Linked DNA regions of Homo sapiens: region 2 is linked to region 1. A link means that fine-mapping ties the variant in region 1 to the expression of a gene that starts in the linked region. Tissue or cell type: whole blood. Region 1 holds a variant in brackets; the other region holds the start of a gene. All regions are shown on one strand. Distances are between the middles of the regions.

The links. PIP is the estimated chance that this variant, and not a neighbour inherited with it, causes the effect.
Region 2: MEST starts here. The variant in region 1 is fine-mapped to the expression of MEST in whole blood (TOPMed, PIP above 0.99).

What each region holds. Positions count from the first base shown.
Region 1 is chr7:130,726,639-130,731,841 of GRCh38, forward strand. KLF14 (KLF transcription factor 14) reads right to left here. Exons shown (of 1, transcript NM_138693.4): 1 at 4,059-5,203. Among named protein-coding and RNA genes, the nearest start is that of KLF14, 5.0 kb to the right of the region's middle. The variant G/T (reference allele first, on the strand shown) is at 2,635.
Region 2 is chr7:130,488,978-130,494,107 of GRCh38, forward strand. It overlaps MEST (mesoderm specific transcript), which reads left to right and starts at 3,108. Exons shown (of 12, transcript NM_002402.4): 1 at 3,108-3,362. The coding sequence starts at 3,337. It overlaps MESTIT1 (MEST intronic transcript 1, antisense RNA), which reads right to left and starts at 2,000. Exons shown (of 2, transcript NR_004382.2): 1 at 1,865-2,000; 2 at 1-990. RefSeq lists a silencer at 1,936-2,145.

The sequences.
Region 1 (5,203 bases):
ATTCTAATTTAAAAAATCTGTGTTATGATTTTATGTCCTGTTTTATTCCTGATAACTTTTTGTGCCTTCTATTTTATTTTATTTTATTTTTGAGACAGGGCCTCACTCTGTTGCCCAGGCTGAAGTGCAGTGACACAATCACAGTGCAGCCTCGGCCTCCCCGGCTCAAGCAATTCTTCAGCTTCAGCCTCCTGAGTAGCTGGGACTACATGTGCATACCACGCACTCAGCTAATTTTTTTTTTTTTTTTTTTTTCTTTGGTAGAGACAGGGCTTTGCCATGCTTCTTGAACTCCTGGGCTCAAATGACCCTCCCACCTTGGCCTCCAAAGTTTTGGAATTACAGGCGTGAGCCACTGCACCCGACCCTGACTTCTCTTTTTAAGAAATTTATATTTGCCAAAGAAACCTACTGTTATTCACCTTTTAAAAGAGTTTTGCTCAAAGCTACCTATTTTTTCTTGTTTCATTAATTTCTGCTTTATTAATGATAATATTTTTCATTCTTTTTTTATTATCACCCCTCCAGAATTGGTTTCAGATTTTTTTTTCCTAATCACTCCCCGTTCCCCACATCCCTATGAAATCTTAAACCACACATATAGTGTATATCTATTTATGTAGTATGCTGTTTTGGAGGCCACAACCATTGTAATATTTAAATGTTTTCCTTTTCTTCTGGAGTTGAAAGCTTAGTTCATTCACCTTCATTCAACCTTTCTCTTTTTTGAATAAAATATTTAAGGCTATAAATTACATTTCCTCCCCTAGTGTTTTTTGCTTGCTATATAGTGCTTTTTGTTTTCATTCAGCTCCAAATTTCTGCAATTTCCCCTTCTGTCTGACTTACGTAGAGGCTTCCTTTTACGGATTTCTCAATTTATGGATTTTTAATGATATTTTTGTTGTATTTTTATGTGATTACCTGCCTGAAGTTTGTCTAGACTTTCTTTGTATCTTACCATGTGGCCGATAGGAATGCTTGCAATCTTTCAACATTTAAGTTTGATTTTTATAGTAGGCTTTTGGCAGATACCTTTTATCAACTTAAGAAATTATCTTTTGTTACTAGTTTACTAAGGTATTTTTAAATTAAATCACAAATCATTGTTGATTTTTAACAATGAAACTATTGAGACGGTTATGCCTTTTTGCTTCCTAATTTCTATTAATTTGATCAATAACTTTGATATATTTCATGTGTCTCATCTTCCCACACTTTCTAAAGACTTACTTCTTTCTGTACGTTCTCCAAGCAACCATCTATATTCCCACTGACAATGGTAATATCACTGAAACTAAGCTAAAAATACTTGGAAGTATTGTTTACATTTTCTGTAATCATCTACTATACCTATCTCAGTGATAGGGATGATTTCCCAGTGCTTTCTCTGCAAATTTAAACAGGTATCTCTCAATATTTTCTTGGGCCTGAGATCCTGAGTGAAGACAGACATTCATGTAAAGCTTGCGTCCATTCTTTTGTTAGATCTCTTAGGGTTCTAATCACCTCCTCTAACCTACTAATAATTAAAATGCCACTCTCCTTTATAATTCCATGTTTAAGATTGTTGGCTACTGGTCTTTCTTATTTTTCTTTTCACATCATCAATACTGTCCTCTGAAAACACAACCTTTCTTCTAAATAAATCCTTCTCTTCTTTCAGCTTAATCAAACCATCATCCTTTCTTCAGTTTTCACCCTTGTACTGCTTCTATTTTGATTTCAAGATTTAAATATATATATTTGAAACAAATATGGCTCCCATTTTATTTCCTGAATAGACCCTGATTCCTAGGGAGAGAAGGATTCAGGCAAAAGCCTTTTTAATACTTTTCCTGCCTTTGGGATTATGGTATACAATGCTTTTCTCTTCCTCAAACCCCTATATAACAAAAACTTCCATTCCTCTTTATGTATTTGTGATAAAATCCACCATTTCTCTGTGGTTGAACACACAAGAAATTCAGCTGAGGCCTTGAAATTCCACTGTCAGGGCTTATATAGTAAACACATCTGGCACCAACTTGGAATATAAATAGAAGGTGATTCTGGATATCCCATATGAATTAAAGGATTTGGAGCCTCCCATTGGCCTCTCCTTAGCCCTATTAAAGGGTGCATTTCAAATCCAGATAATGGGGAAACTGATCTGATACCACCTGATACTTCCCAGAATAATTTAAGAGCTAGAATGTCCCTAACCTGTGCTCTTACATATACATGGAACTTATGCCACTGACCTTAGAATCCTCAACTGCAATTCTGGCTGAGCATAAAGGCAGCACAAATTGATCTATTGAATAGCGCCTTCCCTTTCTGCAGTGATCCTGTCTCAGTTACATCTATGTGAATCAAAATCAGCCACAGTGTTCTGTACAGCTCACTTTTGCCAAAGTCTATGCTCAGTGACTCTAATAAATTAGTGGCTTGTGTGAGGACACTTGCGATCATAGGCTGCTAAGATTTGAAATGACTAAAGAACTGAAAGGCTGAAGATCATTAAAGCATTAAAGCCCTGTACTCTGGCATTACAGACATCCAATCTCCACACATCTTATTTTGATTCCCTAATTCCAGGTGAAGTGCCTATTTCTCAAGATTTAACAGGCAAGGCACATCTCAATGTGGTGG[G/T]GCTTAAGGGAGAAAATTAATTCTACCTCTTTCCCCTCTATGTTATCAGCCAAATGAATAATAAATACAAGAATCAGACTAATGAGGGTCAAAATATCAGTACAGTCATCCCTCAGTATACACTGGGGATTGGTTCCAGGATCCCTGTGTATACCAAAATCCACGCATACCCAGGCCCAACTGGCCCTGTGAAACCCATGTATATGAAGAGTTTCATACTCTATTCGCATGTGACTTTTTGTATATGTGTAGAGAACAGCATATGAGCAGGCTCTGCATCCCACAAATACTCTATTTTTGAACTGTGTTTGGTTGAAAAAAATCTGCACATAAGTGGACTTGTGCAGTTCAAACTCATGTTGCTCAAGGGTCAACTGTTACTTTGCTGATTAAGCTGTATCATGGTCAAAACTGAGCTTTCTAATACACTGTCTCCCCTACTCCTCCTAATTCCTGGTCTTGGATCTGGACTACCCAAAGAAAAACATACAGTGGAAATACTTACCTGGATAGCAGCAAGGAACAGAGCTGCCCCAAAAGTAGAAAGAGAGAGAGGTGTTCTTCAAACCTGCCTCTAGAAGGCAGGTCTGGGGCTCAGCAGGTGTGTTTACCCTATGGAAGCAGGATCTGAGTGAAGTGCATGCACACTGCAGGCAGGGAGGTGCAAAAGAGAGAACTTAAGAGTGTGCGTGTACAATGACCCCCCCCCCCCATGTCTCCATCAGAGAATACAATCATTTCTCCTTTGGGGAGAAGTGTGTAGAGGTAGAGATGGGGGTCAAAAATGATATTCCAGAATGGTTCCCTGCTTGGAGAAGAACAGGGAAATAGGGACAAATGACATATTCTTGCCTCCATGGGTGGGGACAAAGCCTGTATTCTTCACATCCTCCCAGCAGAAGCAGGGGATTCAACTCCCTCACAACCAAGGTCTGATCTAGAACTCATTCCCAGCCTCCAACCCATATTTCAGGAAGAGGTGTATGAATAGTTTCTGCTACTAGGTCATTCCTACATCCGAACTGTGGATGGCAGGGATGGGGCAATGGCTCAGAGGTTCAGTCTGACCCCAACCAACCCCCATATGTACTCACTCATTGAGTGAGTACATCTGATTAACAAAAAGAAACCAAAGAAACACCAATAAAATTAGGAAGCCTTTTTCATGGCATTTCACTAACTACTCCTTGAGAACTCTCTGGTTGCTGGAGTGAAAAAGGTAACAACAATACTCAGACTAAGAAAGACCTACCTAAAAACCTTTATCTGGCTACTCCCATGTATGTGCTGAGTATCTCCTTCCCCACCACCTCAAGACCTGGGAGGAGTCAGTTTTACCAATGAAAGACATGTCACATTGAGATTGTCAGAGGCCATCTCCAGATAAAAGTCCCTAGTGTACAAGAACCCAAATAAGGACACTATTTGGGAGCTTGAGAATCAAAAGTTATTTATCAACAGGTGATTGGAAAAGCCAAGCTTTCTTGAAACCAATTTCAGAATGGTTAGTGGAAATTCCTGTTGGCTTCCTTGGTCCACTTACCCAATGGCAGATCTTCAACTGAAAAGGACAAAGAGGAAACAGTAGTCTTCAATAGGACCCCCAATGCCCTAGCTATCCAGCCCTAGCTGAAGAGACAAACAGAGCAAAGAGAAGACTCCTTCCACTACCAAAAATCACTTTCACAGTGGGGGGCCTTCTCCTCCCACATGTAACTCAACAGCCCCACCTTCCCTGCTTAGCCTTCATTAGGAAATACTGAACCTCTTCAGGGTCATAGGCCATACTCTTTTGGTCCTTTCTAAGGACCCCTCCCTCACTTAGTGTAGGAGCACTTAGTACAGTCCCAATGTCATGTTTGTATCATTCACTCTCTTGAGGATGCTGGAATGCCCAGGACCAGAAAAAGAAGGGAATTCACACTGAAAATTAACCTAGCAGGTCCAAAGAGAAAGTCTCTCCTAGGATGCCAAAAAGTCATTCTCACTTTATGTCCACATGGTGTGAAGGGAGGGAACGTAACCAGTTAAGAAAAGGGCTTTTGGGTCAAACACAATAGGCAAAGGGTTCAATCAACATGTGAAGGTACACAGAAGCAATACAGAATAGGGAGCGAGGGAGGGACTAAGATCCCAGAGAGGAGGAAGAGATGGGGGTAATCAAGTGTGAGGGAAAGAGTCACTTAGCAGGCCAGACACCTAAGTTCTAGTCATGGCTCTTCCCAGCAACCTAGCATATGACTTTGAGCTTATCTAGTCTTCAGTATCCTCATCTGCAAAATAGGGGAAAGCAATTTGTTTAACCAGATGCCCGTTAGGGTCCTATGAGATTACAGCATCTTCCCCAAGTGTCAGTGATGGACTATTGCAAAATATTCAGGAGGGGGCCAGAGGGGATCTCCCAGGGCAGGAAATGCCTTTCAGCCTCATCTCTAAAGAAAGGGTCACATATATACACATTCATACATACACAAGCAGAGTGGTCAGTGATTTCATCCACAGCAGCAGAGACACATATAGAAAAAACAAATACTGTTGATGTCTGATTCCTTCTTATCGGGAAAGGGGC
Region 2 (5,130 bases), 240 kb before region 1:
TCCCATTATGAAGTGTTTTAGTTGATTTGAATCTACAATGATGGCTCTTGAAAGTGGCAGTCCCGGTTGTGTCTTGTTGTCTCCATAAATATCCTGCACTTGTCATATTATGGGTCTCAAACTGGGGTTAGAAAAATATGGTTCTTGAATCTGTGGTACCATCTCTGCTGATCCCATACCACTGTTGTGAATCAGCGAGATAATAAATGCAGAGCTTTCTACATGAATTTTTGCACAGATCTGAGGTCTTATCATGAGGCGGAACTGTGTTAGACTTGGAATGTGACAAGAATGTGTGATAAGCCACTGGCTGAGGGAGTACTACTGCATGAGATATCCTGCACAGTCCAGGATAGCATCTGTCCAGAGGAACTGAAAGGGTGCAACTTCGAGCAAGCCAGAGCCGACTTTGAATTTATGTGTGGCTGTGTGTTTTCTCAGGGCTCCAAGTGTTTTATACCTTGGGTCAAATTCTCCCCCTGCGGAGGAAGCTCCTTTCTGGAAGTAAATCAGGCACATTTAGAAGATTCGTTAACTCTTTGGCTCCTGGGGGATTATGGCCAGCATTTTCTCTCTTAGACTTCCCACAGCGAATTCCTGGTTGGGCCAAGCTGATATCTTTGAGCTGACTTCTGTACTCAGGGTTCTTCCAAACAGGAATATGCTTTCTCTGCCTAAGATCTGGGTTCCATGCCCATCTCAACCTCAATCCCTCCTTCAAGGAAGTTTTTCCTAACTCCTCGGCCAGACATCAATAATGTCTGAAGGGAGGATTTCTCCCGAGTGCCAGACTTGGAATTCCTGTTGTCTTCAGGAGCTCTCCCTGGCGCTCCCTCCTTCCCCCAGGGCCTTTAAACTGTTTCTCCTCCAGTCTGCCCACTTGATCCATGTGGGTAGACATGTTCCATGGCCTTCAGAATAAGATCTTTTGTGGGGTACTCAGTCCATAAACAGAAAATTGCCTTCATCTTGGATGCTGGTGTTTCTGGCCTGGTGAGAATGAAAGTGTGGAATTTGTTTGTAGGACTCAAAGTTTCCATTAACAATAAATATGAAAAATATATAATGCAAAGGCTTTTGTTATTGTTATTATTAAAATAGGAAAGCCTTTACCTTTTTGGAAGAACCGATTTAGATTTTGCAGAGTAATTCAGTCTTTAAAAGGTAGTGGTAGTTAAAATAGGTAATCTTTGACTTGTAAAGAGACTAATTTAAATTTTGTTAAGTAACCAATTAAGGCCATAAAGAGTTTAAATCCATCTGTGGCTTCTCATTTTCTCTAGAACAAATTCCTAATTCCCTACGATGAAATTCTCTTGCTATCCTAATTTTTTGCCGGCTCAAAGGACTAACCGTTTTCCCCAAACACGCGGCCCTGAGCCTCCGGTGCTTTGCGAAAGCCGTCCCCTCCGGCTGGAATGTTCTTTGTCTCTCTGGTAAATGTCTATTCATCATTCAAGACCACCCTTCGCCCCTCCCCTTAATTACTTCCTCCCCTGTGCGCCCTCAAATTCTTGTACTCATTCAAGCAGTATTTATTAGGGGCCAGCTTTGTGGCCGGCACCGTGGCGGGCTCTGGGGCTACAAAAGGTGAATAATACTTGGGCTCTGCCTCTGAGGGCCTTACACGTTAGGGAGGAGTGGGTCAACTGCCACAAACGTCGCTAGGAAATTAAAAGGAAAATTTTACAAAGTGGCAGTTCTTGTCTGTCTTCCCCTCCAGATGGCCCGTGTGTTGTTTTCGGGCCGGGGCTATTTCTCATTTATTTCGCACCCCCGGTTCTTAGTGCCCTGTAGGTGCTAAATCAGCATTTGTTTCATGAGTGCTTTTTCTGGGGGCAACCAGACCCCTGCAGAAGTGTACCTGTGTTGTGCCAGAGGTTCTGATGATAGGCTTATAGGCGGTAGTTTCCTCAGTGTCCGTGGGTCGCCCCCGGTCCCGGGTTGGATGCCCCGCGGTCCAGCACCGAACCTTTCGGGGTGCAGAGTTGCAGAGCCGCGGAGGGCCCGGGCCGTGCGCAGCCGAAGGGAGGCCTGCAGCGCCCCCTCTGGATGCAGCGGGCACCGGCCGGCCGCCCCGCTCACCCGCTCGCACCCCACGTTTGTTCACCAGTATTTCAGTTTACGGTCAGAAAATGAACACAGACACTTCGTGATACTCTACACTTTTCAAAGGCGTAAGGGATGCCTTTTAAAGGATTATGGATTAGAAAAATTCCTCCCTCTTTCTTGTGCCTCTGGGCCCTTGCATTGTGATTCTATCTTACGTAAATAAAGGGGGCTTTGCTCTCCTAATTGTGCCCACTGTTCTGTGCAGCGCGGACCGGCGCATGCAGCGAGCGGGGCTGCGAGGGCGCTGCTGTGGCCAGGCGTCTGGCATGCTGACCACGTCGCGCTGCTGTAAAGGAAACCTGCCCCGCGCAGCGGCGGTGGCTGGAGCGGGAGAAACCGGACTTTGTGCAACTTTGGCCATAGTGGCCATCCCATGAATCTGTTTACTAGCTTGGTGGTGGGTCCAACAGAGCTTGTTGCTCCCTAGCCGCTTGCTCGTGCCCTTGGTGGTTACCGGTAGTTAAGCTTAGGGCGCATAGGGCCCTCGTGGCTCGCCACCTCTCACGGTTCAGTACCCACGCTTCGAACGAGGGATGGGAGCAGGCGCCACGGCCGGCACCCCAGAGCCCTGCTGCCCCTTAGTTCGAGCGGCCATCCTCCTGTGGGGCTTGTGGGCAGCCTGTGGGGTTTGTGGGCGGCCTGTGGGGTTTGTGGGTGGTCTAAGGAAAGAGTTGGGGCACTCAGGGGTCTGCTGTTTTTGCCCGTGGCCTTAACTCATCAGGGGAGGGTTTCTGCAGCAGAATCTCGGGCTCAGGGTTGGCGGTTAACGAGGGAGCAGCGGGGTCTTGGGGAGGGGGCTCGACACCCCTGAAGGTGCCCCCTAAAGGAGCCACTGTTAGAGGGGCACCCCATCTTTGTGGCCATGGCGGTGGTAGAGCGGCTGGGAGGGGCTCTGCGGCGAGCAAGGGAGCAGGCGGTAGGGGTTCTGCGGCGATGGGCGGGCTAGGGGCGGGGCGCGGGTGGGCTCTAAAAGTCGGTGCCCACTCGCTCCGCGCTGCCGCGGCAACCAGCACACCCCGGCACCTCCTCTGCGGCAGCTGCGCCTCGCAAGCGCAGTGCCGCAGCGCACGCCGGAGTGGCTGTAGCTGCCCGGCGCGGCGCCGCCCTGCGCGGGCTGTGGGCTGCGGGCTGCGCCCCCGCTGCTGGCCAGCTCTGCACGGCTGCGGGCTCTGCGGCGCCCGGTGCTCTGCAACGCTGCGGCGGGCGGCATGGGATAACGCGGCCATGGTGCGCCGAGATCGCCTCCGCAGGTGAGTGTGCGGTGGGAACGAGGGGGTGTGGCTGGCGGCCCTGGGACTAGGGCGCAGGCGAGCGGAGGACTGTGTGCCCGTGTCCGAGCTGGGGCTGCCTCTGGGCGAAAACTCTACCGACAGGCGGCACGCATTCCGCGCCCGCTCTGCCTACTTGAGGAGGGGGTGTCACTCCTGCCCGCAATGGAATGTTCAGAACGCGGGACCTCCTTGGGTTAGGATTTCTAGACCCCGGGATCGTCGTGGTGAGATTTAGGATTTCTGGACCCCAGCGTCATCTTGATATGACTTAGGATCCATAATGACCCTGGTCTCACCCTGATGCGAATTGGGATTTTTAGATCCTGGCATCACCCTGGTGCGATTTAGGATTTTTATACTCAGTCATTGCTGCAGCATGATTTAGGATTTCTAACCCCCAGCATCGCCCTGGTTTGATTTAGGATATTTAGACTCCGGCTTCCCTCTGGTGCGATTCAGGATTCTTAGACTCCGCCGTTGCCGTGGCGCGATTTAGGATTTATAGATCCCGGCAAAGCCCTGGTGCGATGTAGGATTTTTAGAACCCCAGCATCGCTCTGGTGCGACTTAAAGGATAGGCCCCAGCATCGCCCTGGTGCGATGTAGGATTTTTAGAACCCCGGTGTCTCCGTGGCGCACCTTAGGATTTCAAGAACGGGATAATCGCAGTGCCGAGATCGCCGCGGTGCAGCTTAGGATTTCAAGACCCAGGTATCACGGTGGCGGGAGTCACCGCAGTGACTAGAACTCGCAGTGCCCGTCAGCCGCCTTAAGTATTTTTCAGATTTCAGTAACAAGCGCGAGTGAGAACGGCGATGTGACCAAACTGTCATGTTGCGCAGGGATTGTTCACCTTGGTTTCGCGGGTTTTCAAAGTGGTTCGTCTCGCGGCGACGCCATCAGGTGGGCGGCAGGTTGGGTGGTATTATTACGGGAGTGTGTTTTTCTGTTTACAAGATGAAGAAATCAAGGCTCAGAAATTTTTGGAAAGTTTGTTACTGGAGTTTGCTTATTGTCTCCGCTCATGGCTCATCAAATAGTTGGGATTTTGGCCAAAAAATGTTTGCTTAACCCATTTTGCCTACTGACGGCTAGGTTGCTTCACTTCTAAAAATCCTAAAAGTTCATGGGGGCATTTTTACTGAGGTAATAAGACAAAAAATGGCCCCCTGAGAGGTTGCCTCTTTGCTTTCTTGGAGTAAGAGGAGGAGGGTGTGGAGGGGGGTGTCCAGGAGTGGAGTATGTTGGTCGATAGCCTCGTTTTTTAACCCCCCACTTTCCCTGAGCAGCGGCGGGGAAGCCTCCCCATTTGCCGCTCTGGCCGCCCCTCCCGGGGCTCTCTGCTGAGTCACTGCAGAGATTCAGCTGCTGGAACCCCGGGGATGAATGCGATGAGAAGCACTGGGGGAAAGGAGTAATGAAATCTGCACATGAAAATGTATACATTGAAGTACAGGACAGATAGGGCTGGGCAAATGATCGTCAAAACCTAATGGTTTTTGTCATCTGACCTTTCAAGGAGATACTGGGATACAGCCTGCTATTGTTGGGTGAAAACTGTGATATAACCATCATGTTCTGGCACTTTTTTGAACCATTTCTAGTATTACCTTGAGAAGTAGGACCAAATGGTTCTATCCGTCTTATGGACAGGTACTTTGGAGAAAAAAAGAAATGACTGCCCTAATAATGCCTAAAAAATAGCCTGGGGAGCTGACATTGTTTAAGAAACATGGTTATTTTACCA